Linked DNA regions of Homo sapiens: region 2 is linked to region 1. Evidence: fine-mapped QTL for protein levels in blood plasma. Region 1 holds a variant in brackets. A gene starts in the other region. All regions are shown on their forward strands.

What was found. PIP is the posterior inclusion probability: the model's chance that the variant is causal. Protein levels are from antibody-based Olink assays in UK Biobank. Linkage for the fine-mapping came from a reference panel and not from the study's own genotypes, which makes the PIPs less certain.
Region 2: it holds the start of KLRK1, and the variant in region 1 is fine-mapped to the plasma level of the KLRK1 protein (UK Biobank, PIP 0.97).

The regions. Positions count from the first base shown.
Region 1 is chr2:111,047,123-111,052,509 of GRCh38, forward strand. ACOXL (acyl-CoA oxidase like) reads left to right here. Exons shown (of 18, transcript NM_001142807.4): 16 at 2,096-2,166. It overlaps LOC124907866 (a long non-coding RNA gene), which reads right to left and starts at 3,055. Exons shown (of 2, transcript XR_007087182.1): 1 at 2,939-3,055. RefSeq lists an enhancer at 2,730-3,024 and a silencer at 2,730-3,024. The variant G/A (reference allele first, on the strand shown) is at 2,978.
Region 2 is chr12:10,387,853-10,393,239 of GRCh38, forward strand. KLRK1 (killer cell lectin like receptor K1) reads right to left here and starts at 2,189. Exons shown (of 8, transcript NM_007360.4): 1 at 2,091-2,189; 2 at 919-1,023. The coding sequence starts at 958. KLRC4-KLRK1 (KLRC4-KLRK1 readthrough) reads right to left here. Exons shown (of 13, transcript NM_001199805.1): 6 at 3,983-4,039; 7 at 919-1,023. The coding sequence starts at 958. The region is part of intron 3 of KLRK1-AS1 (KLRK1 antisense RNA 1); the gene reads left to right.

The sequences.
Region 1 (5,387 bases):
ATGATAGTCCCACAGAAATGGGAAAAAGTTGGAAAGGGCTGGCTTGGTATGGAAGTTGACTGGTTTGGATTGGATGTACAGAGTTCAAGGTAACTTGAAGTGGGTGCTATGTCTATGATAACGAAAAGTATCATAGTGGAGTCCAGTGCACAGGCAGTGAGAAGTATGAACACAGGGTCACCACAGAGAGGAGAGAGCTGTCAGTGAGAATCCAGTAGCTCTCTAAGGAAGCAAGTGTTTCAATTTCCCTGACCTGCACTAAGTAAGATTCTAAGTTACAGCATAAACCTTTACCAAATAAAATAGCCACCTTAAAAAGGTGATCTAAAGAAAACCTAGCACCTGAATTTGTAGATTATTCTTTAGCCATCCTCAGACAGTAGTCAGAGATCAATATGTTATCACACCAAATCAGATCACAGCAAAAGTCCAAAACTGAGGACGGAGTTGAGGGAGAGAGGTCTTGCCTCCAGGGTCTTTCCCAGGCAGGTGTATTCTGAATGAGTGACAGCAAAAGCATTCGTGTAAACTTAACACAGCTTGGGCCCTTATCTCAATGTACAAGTTTCTGCTGAGCCACTTTTATAGGCAAAGTTAATTTTTAAAAAAGATTAAATTGATGATTCTATGTAATTAACACTGGTTTCTGCCAATTGAAGACTGGGTGGGTATATGCATTGGAGAGCATGTGGAAGGCAACATTGATCTCTCTATGGATCCCAAGTATGTCTTGACTGGATAGAGCAAAATTTAAACTTGGAAGAAATAATCAGCACCAGATACAACTGATAGCAGTCAAGATGGCATGGAGTAATTTAGTCAGAGATGAAAGCAGTCTAAGGAATTCTATTTTAGAGTAACATTGAAAACTACAAACAACCTACCCAGACAATATTTTCTTGATGAAAATTCATCATTGCTGATATAGTTCTCTTTAAAATATCTGTATTTGTAGACATGACATCCAGGCATGCTTGAGGTCAAATCATTGGAATCAGACTGTCCCTCAGCCTTGAGGCTGAGTTTAGCTCTGCCCACCTTTGTGGGATCTGCGGGAGTTGGGATGGGACCAGAGGGCAATCAATGTCTTTATTGGCTGGATGGGTGGGCTTGGGATGTTCAGTTGGAGGACTGAGTTTTGCTCTACTCAAAGACAAGAGGCAGAACTCTTCCCAGCAGAGAGCAATGAAAGGTCATAGAGGGTAAAGAGTGAACGCAGCTTTGAGTATAGCAATCAAAGGCTAAACTAGTTGGGTTAACTTAGTAAAAGCCTTAATGCGTGTCAAATAAGTGGTTTTAAATCTGAGGGTGGCAGAGAATTGTGGGAGCATTTTCAAGCATGAAACAATGTAGTCAACACAGCCTACAGGAGGGCAGTCTGTGACTTACACCAAAATAAAAATTGGTCACCACATAAGTGAGCCTTTGATGAGAACCTGGCCATAAATATGAGAAGGGGAATGTAATTTTGTAAATTTTCTAGATTAATATTCCTAGAGCTTTCATGGCCAATTTCAATGGATTACTAAAACTTTTTTTTTTTCTCGTAAATCTTCTTGGGTTTCTCTTCCCTATTCTCCTTGAGAAGGTTGGTTGGAGAAAGACGACTTTATATATTTGGGGGAGTTTGTGGGGTTTGAGTCAACACTTGGGGCCATACACCAAGAGAAGAGTTAAAGCCATGGAAATCATGATGGAAGATTGAGATTTTTTAAATTAGCACTGTCAAATTTACAAAGGCAGGTGGAGTCTTCTCAATGAAGGTCCCAGGAAATGGAGATAGAGTGTCATCTCTGGGGACAAGATGACCCAAAAGGAAGCTGAACCCAGGACCTCCTGGCAGTTTAGGGAGGAGCTTTGCTGATGGGAATGGCCTTGTACTCTACTGTAATGACTCTGTCTGATGGGGTGGAGAAGTCACTGTACGGGGGCCCCTGACCCATGCAGGGGACAGTTGGGGAGCTCTGCCATGTCACCAAGGAAGGACGGACAGCATGCTGTTTACGTCTGTTATAACCACAGTGTCCTCCTTCACATCAGAAGGGCTCTGAGGCGGAAGTGAAGTCATTCACAATTTCCATTTCTTCCCTTCCAGTTACCTTAGAGCAGTTCTCCCTAGCAGTGAAGAGCTGTCCTGACCAAGAGGACCAGACTTTGTTAATGAAGGTAGGTTATCAGATAAAGAACTTATTTCCTAAAGGCTCAGAGCGTTTTTATTGCCCTGAGGAGAGTTTCATTTTTACAAGCGGGAGTAAATTTATCATGTCTGAATCGTGTGCTCCAGGGGGATAAGCTTGTCATAGGCGAATTGGAGGGTTGCTGGTTAACGAGCACCACTGCTGCCTGCGGAGTGCGGGAAAGTGACAGGAGAGTGGGTGTCCACATGAGTGGGGAATCTGTTTAACTCTCCAGAGGGCTCAGTTGGTTCTATTTAAACTTATCTGATGGAGTCTTGATGCTTTTTTAGCAGATTTATGAGGCTTGGCCAAATTCCACATCTCCCACTATATTTTTAATTAAGACAAAGGATTCCATACGTTCCCAGTCTGCTGCTTCCTACTTTTGGCACCTTAAGGAATGCTACACAAATTAGACTGTTCATATTCACCACCAGAATGAGCATCTTATGTCATAGATTCCTTGCCCTTGAGTGGAAGACAAGCTTCTTCCCCCCAACCCCCCGCCCCAAGGAACAGTTGTTTTATTTCCTTCCAAGTGACAGGAGCAGAGGCATTTCCAAATGGTATAACCTGCACTTAGGCTGCCTACCTAGGTGAGCCAAAAGTGTGGAAAACCCTGGCAAGCTGCCCACCTGGATTTAATTAAAACTTTGTCTTTGAAGCAGAGAGCAGTAAACAGCAGCAGATCACAAAGGTGCACACACATACTTTCCCACCACTAAGACTCATGCTTTCACACAGAAACCTTGCAGACTGACCTTGAGGTACAAATATTTCCATGATGTCACTTCAGTGCT[G/A]TACCACCAGGAAACCGCGTGCACCAGGAATTGCATTTCTTTATCTAAAAACCAGCTTCTTTACCAGGTGTCCTCTGACTTTAGAAATGGGTGGAAAAAAAATAGGGTGTCACTCTGAGGGATTTTCAACTCATTTGCCTAAGATGTGATATTTTTGGTCTTTAAAAAAAAAAAAGCTTTCAGTGATGTTAGTTTTATAATAAAGAAGCGCTGCTCATACCAAGTGTTGGGTTTGTCTGGGAACCCTGATTTTTCAGAGTCCTGGGCGTCTGATACACTGACTTAGAATGATATAGATTCAGGCACATGGGCGTTTCTTGTTTGCCACGCTTAATTCTCTGTTTCCTGCTTTAAGTTCTATTCTGCAAGGACCTTTCCTTCCAGGTGCAGGCTGGCTTTCCATGACCTTGAAGCAGCTCTTGGGCCCTGGATGCTCACCTCTTTTCTCTGCTCACCGGCCTTTGGTCTTTCTTCCCTCTATCCTGTGTTTTCTCCTACCATTTGCTTCTTGCTTCTCTCTTGTTCTTCTCCTACTGTCCATCTCTCCCCATTTGCAGGAGGTGAAGCTCCTGGGCTCCCCTGGAGGTTACATGGGCATCTCAGAGGCATTTTGGGGTACAGAGGGCAGCGACAGAGCCCAGCCCCAGAGACCACACCTCCAGGCCTGCTTCTAGTGGTCCTCATGGCCTCCCCGACTTGGGATGCCGCAGCCCCCTCTGAGTTTCTTCACATCTAGAGTGAGAGGTGAAAAGAGATGTAACCAAAGGCCCCTCCTCCTCTCACCATTTCACCTTCTTGCTGACTTTCATGGTGCTCTGGCTGGCTTCTCTAGCACATTCGGTTAGAAACTAACAGATTGGGGTTGGGAGAGGAAGGCTAAGATGGCCTGAGGTTTCCTGGAATTTGCGTGACCTCCAGTGGCGTTCAGTATTTTGTGTCTTACCTGTTGGTTTCTGCAGACTGTGTGGCCTCAGCAACAGAGGATGATTTATGTGGGCGTTTTCTCAATATTTGCAAATATTTGAACAGGCATCATCAAAGAAAGAAGTTTCACTGAACAAAAACGTGTGCCGAGTTCATATATACTGAAACTATTTTATGATTTTTTTTAGGAGATTGAGGTTTTCTAATGTCACATATCAGAAGGCACCATGTGGGTGTGACAATGGTATGCTGGGTTTTTGTAGATGTTATGTGAGAAAACCTATTCAGGGTGACAGTAGATTATTTTGACTACAGTCAGCCTGCAGGTGATTGTATGTTTGCTCTAGTGAGCTATCCACTTTGCAGACTGTCTGAAATAAATTCCCACATTTAACTTAACCTCATGAAAACTTGTTGGAGGCAAAAAACGTAGATCTGGGCCAAATATGATATATATTTTTTTGAGACAGAGTCTTCTTCTGTCACCCAGGCTGGAGTGCAGTGGCGTGATCTTAGCTCACTGCAACTTCCACCTCCTGGGTTCAAGGAATTCTCCTGTCTCAGCCTCCCCACTAGTTGGGAGTACAGGTGTCTGCCACCATGCCTGGCTAATTTTTTGTATTTTTAGTAGAGATGGGGTTTCACCATATTGGTCAGGCTGGTCTTGAACTCCTGACCTCAGGTGATCCACCCGCCTCGGCCTCCCAAAGTGCTGGGATTACAGACATACGCCACTGCGCCCAGCTGATATTTTTTAAAATTATATTTTGCATGCATTCCTGCATTGTCAAACATTCCAATGTTGCATTCTACATTGTCAAGGGTAATTGAGATCTGAGCACAAATATTTAAAGGGGTACCATTAAAAATGCAGCTTGTATGGCAGGCATGGTCCATGATTGTCCCAGGCAGCCTAATTTTGACTCAAGTCAAAAGCCCCTCCCTCAATCACATAGCTCCACCTTGCCTAACCTGAGAAGATGCTCTATAGACAGACTGCCAAGAAGATGCAAGAGATGAACTTGGTTCATCAGATGGCTGAACCAAGGTCAGATTCCCCTGCAAAGACAAAAACATTGAGATTTTGAAGATGGCATAAGCCAGAACATTCATCTGACAACCAGGAAAAGCAGGAGGGACAGGAAAACAAGTGACTAGCCACCATTGCATAGCTAGTCAGCCGGCAATAGAACTAGGACCAGAAAGCTGGGCTTCTTCCTGCGGGGCCCACTCAGATGAGCAAATTCATAGAAAATTCCACCACTCCACCCCTTCAGCACCATGAGAGCACACACGGGAGGTGTGACTGCAGTGGAACCATGAGGGGTACTGTGGTGGCAGGCTTCTGGAGTCACTCTCAAGGCTTGTTAATCACATCCTTGTTGCTGGGGGTCCTGTAAGACAGGAGAAAGCCAGCTTCTCTGTGACTCAGTTTCCCATCTACCAAGCAGAGGTGGAAGCTGTTACTGGCTTAAGTAACAGACCC
Region 2 (5,387 bases), not on the chromosome of region 1:
TTTCTTTATAATGAAGGACATACATAGGCTAAAATAGTGGGGTCTAATGATTTAGAACAAAGACAGATAATCTTGCCTCTGAACAAAATACCTAAAGAATCATTTTGCTCTCTTGAAATATTAATTATTTACTGATGATTAATATTTACTTAAAAGCCTTTTTTAAACTTTTATTTTTGGTTCAGGGGTGCATGCGAAGGTTTGTTACATATGTAAATTCATGTCACGGGGGTTTGTTGTACAAAAGCCTTTTATAAATTAAATGATAATATGAATTATATTTTATAGGTAAAATTAGACATTGATTGCGCATGTAATACCTAACTCAGTTATTTTACATATGGAGTAAAGAGAGTAGGTATCACTTTATGGATGAAGAAATTGAATGCTAGAGATGGCCAAAATCATAAAGCTTATTTAATATAATGTTACCAACTGTGAATAAGTTATAAATTTATAAACACCTTTAGGATAAAAAGTGCTTTAACATACATGTCAGTTGATTTGAATATTACACAAATCTAAGATAAATATGGAATGTTTCATGCCTGTATTTGATAGAAAAAGAAACTAAACTAAACTACACAGAGGTTGCAAATTGACCCTTCAAATCTAGAGAGCGGTAAAAGTTTGAGTAAAATTCAAGTCTGACTCCACATCTATTTCACTATTTCAAGCTGTCCCAAGTTGTGAGCGACTTTACCATAATATAGTTAATAAAATAAAGGGAAAAAAGTTTTTAAGTTTTGGAAGACTTGATTTAAAATACAATATGAACATAACATGAAATCAACATAAATAGAACATGAAAAGAATCAGAGTAAATTGCTTGCCTATGCCTTATATGCTTGTATGAAATTCTTGGTATCTTAAAATTGTATAAAAACAAAACTACACACTTATGTGGTAAAAACATACCCCAGCTGTGTCGAGACCTCCGACCACGAATCCACCCCATCAAATACTTATAAGTGCACGTCTACCGCAGAGAGGAATCTAAAGTCTTCAATGCACAAAGGATTCCTGAATAAAATAAAACTGGGCATTTGTTTTTTGTTCTCTTTCCCGTGGTGAGATAAAATATTTTGAATAGAAAAGTAAAATGCAGAAACTTTTCCCCTGTGCATGCCTTTAAGAAAAGAATAGAAATGACAATTCACATAAAGCCAGGCAAAATTAATTTTATACATTTCTCTTGGTTGTAAAATAATCGCCAATTACTTCAAAATGTCATAACAATATAATGAACCTATTAATTCACCTACATTGAGATATTTAATACCAATATTTTACTTTACTGATATTAGATAACAACACACCCAGTTTTCTGTTTATAGTCGTTTATTGCTTCTTGGCCTTTTAGCTAAGATCAAGTGTTTCCAGTTGTTTATTTTATCTGGCAATAATTTAGTTTTCTTTCTGCAAGCTAAACTCAGGTAAGTTATATGCACTTTTGTTGAATGTCCTTTTCTAGTGCATTTTAATCCAACGTGCCCATATCATCATCATCAACAAATTATCATCACCATCATCATTAACAAAACTAATCTCACATGTTTATATAGTAACATCTTAGCAATGCACAGCAGAGCTTCCAGAAAAAACCATTTAATAAATAAGCATAGTGCTTAGATTTCAAAAATAAAAGCTATTTCATATTTGATTATGATAGTTGGAAAGCACAGATATAACTTGTTTCACCTTGCATGTAAAGATGTGTATCAAAGGTAAGTGCCCCCTACAGCATCAGAAAACTCAAAAATTTGACAATTTAAATTGAATCTCAATTCTTCTCATCCTAAATGTAAAGATTCATTTTTCTAGTTTTGCTTAGAGACAAGGCTTCTTCTTATAGTAATATTACAACTTCTGATTCTTCAATAAGTATATCCTAATTACCTATCATCAGATACAGTGATAGAATATACATCAGAAATGATAAGCATTCCGTATCCTCAGGAGTTCTATTCAAGCATCTAAGAAACAATTAGAATTACCTTATAGTGTAAATATTTTTATTTTTTTGAGGTTGAAATATAATTTCTCATATCTTGAATAATAAACACACACACATACACACATACACACACCTGCTCAGAGAGGGAAGATCTTGATTCTTGTGGATAAAAGCCTTCTATAAAACTAGAAAATTTAGATATGTCCTCAGTTCCTGATCTAGAATTGAAAGTGGAGATACTTAGTGAATTTCTATCTTTGAGAAAGATGTGACAAATATTATAATCTCATCTTCCTGTGGAAAAACATAAACCACAGTACTTCCGCCTTATCACTACAAAAATATTGTTAATTTGGTAAAAGAGTTAAGACCACCCATTGTTGGATAAATGTTAGGTTGGTGCAAAAGTAATTGTAGTTTTGCCATTATTTTAAATAACATTTTAGGATTTGAAAATGATGAATTTAAATGATGCCATTTAATCCTAAATATTTTAGAGATTCAATTCAATTCCAGTTAATACCTCAGGTTTTGTTGTAGAACTTACAAAGCAGAATTCTACATGTACATTAAATTACAAAAGTCAAGACTAGGAAAGTCACAATTGAAGATGAAGAAAATGTGGGAGCCTTGTTTTACTAGATAGTAAGACCTATGTTAAAACCGTATTAATAAAGGCAAAGTGGCATGTGGGGCATAGATAGACAAATTGAGAAGGGTAAAAATACAGACAAGAAAAAGTCATGTGCATAGATTAAAAAATATAAGGTAACATTGCAGATAAAGTGGGAAATTAGCTCCTATTCAATAATTTGTCCTGGGTTACTATCACACTGGCCTTTAAGTTACAAAAAATTAGTCCTGGGAATTTTTAAATTTTAATATAAAAAACATGAAATTGCATCTCTGTCATATCTACATCATATGCAGGAGAATTAGAAACTTAAATATATACCCCAGTATACATAAGAATAATATATGAATTGATACCAATGAACAAGATAAGCTAAATATATATTTTATGTTTATTAATTTAAAATACTAACATAAGACATCATATAAAGTAATATAAGATGAACACATTATAACATTTTAACAAAAACCAAAGCTATTAATCTTAAAACTCTGAAATATAAGGAAGGAAAACAGCTTTCATGTGGTGATGTGTTAAAGTTGGACAATAAATTTATTCAACATTTTTTTTCTTTAGCGAATGCTATTTGCTATGCACTTTTCTAGATCTTGAGAATGTCAAAGTAAACAATCCAAAAGAAAGTTTTTGCCCACATGGAAATTAATTACTTTTTTTTTTTTTTTTTTTAAGAGATGGAGTTTCACTCTTGTTGTCCAGGCTGGAGTGCAACGGGGCGATCTCGGCTCACTGCAACCTCCGCCACCTGGGTTCAAGCAATTCTCCTGTCTCAGCCTCCAGAATAACTGGGATTACAGGCATGTGCCACCACACCTGGCTAATTTTTGTATTTCTAGTAGAGACGAGGTTTCACCATGTTAGTCAGGCTGGTCTCGAACTCCTGACCTCAGGTGATCCTCCTGCCTCAGCCTCCCAATGTGCTGAGATTACAGACGTGAGCCACCACACCCAGCTGGAAATTACTTTTTAGTTTAGGTGATATAAAATGAATAAGTATAAAACAAATTCAAAATTAAACAAGATAGGTGAATATAAAACAAGTTGAAGAAAATATGTTATTTTCTGACATACCAAGATTCTTTTCAGCTAATCAACATTTTCTATTAGCTATTTTATATAGTAAAAATAGATCTATATAGAGGAAATATAGGCTGATATTTTCTAACAACTACATTTTAACAAATATTTGGTTTTTGAAAGGAAATGAATAAATGAGTAAATGCAGGCTTTTTATGGGAAAAACCTGAATCACAATTTCCTGAAGAGTTATTTTTATATATGTAGTTTTCGATTGAATAGAGATTGTCTCTTAAATACAGAATTGAGAAAAGGGGGATAGGAATAGGATAAAAAAGAACATTTGAATATCCTACCTATTTCGTTTAGTTCAAATGGCAACTTACAGCCAACTGGGAAGTCCCCACACATACCTAAAAGAAGATTTCTGAAATAAATACCATGATAAAGCTAAGCACCAGGGAGAGTTTTATTGTCATATATAAAGGTCCCTAAACCAACTGACAGAGTGTGGAAAGGATTCTTAAAGAAGAAAATTCTAAAATGGGTCCTGTATGTCGGGTTAAAACAATTAGTTAGATAAAGAAATAGTATGTTAAAACTCCAATTTCTTTCTCAATGTTGAACATACACTCACTTTGCTGTAGTCATGATAGTAAACTTATTGGGGATTTGCTGGGCATTTGTACTGGTTTATTCTATGTGAATTGCAAAAGGACATAGCATAGTTTTCAGATAAAATACTTTCTAATAAGTGAAATAAAACCAACGCAATTAACTTCTGCAGAAAGAATAATTTGACTATAAAAGTACCTGAACAAACTTCATATAGACGTATCTATATAACTTTCAAAAACTATTGTTAGAAGAAAAATTACAATATTTTGCAAACAGCCTGGGCTCAAGTCATTTGAGAACATCCATCACCACAATAAACTATTTAATTACTTTCATTAGTTGAGAAGAGCCAACAATCAACCGGCCTTTTTGGTCAGTAAGCTAACTCGCACTGTGGCCTCAGAAAACCCTTCTCTTCTGGTACACAGGAAAGACTTAACACGCAGCCAACTTGTGGTTAGAAACAGAGTGCTTGGCAGGTTGCTGGCTTCAAGCTGTGACACTAAAGCTGGATGTGGTCAGAGGCGTTTACTGGACGCTTGCCCAAATATGAAAGCTTAAGATGTGCAGCTATTGCCAAGCAAAAATTTTGTAATCTTGACCTTTTGGTAAATGTGTTTGAATTGACAAAAGACATGTCAAAAAGGACAAATTTTTAAAATTCACATGGACAATAAAGAAAATAAAAAGGAGTGGAAGAAATAGAGCTGAGTCTTTGGATATGCAGGGGCATCTATGGCCACACCACCATGATGCATCCAGTCTCGTCTGGACACGCATGGGCATATTGAAGCAGAAGTGAAATGATGACTAATGTAAAAGTAAAAAAGTCTGCAAACATATTTTAAGAAATATGTATATATATATTTTCAGAACCTATTTTCCATTCAGCTAGGTATTAAGTACTGGGCTACACATACTGACATATAATGTTAACTGGTGTATTGTAATTATATGAACTCAAGGCAGAGATTCCATAAATCTGGAATTTATACTTTGGGGAAAAACAGGTCATCATCTTGGCAATTAATTAATTTTCTCTGGCACAGCTTCCTAAGCCAGGAATGATTAAATGATTTTTTTGCCCCATCTCAGTTGAAATTTTGTATAATTCTAAAATTTAGCAATTCAATTGAAATATCT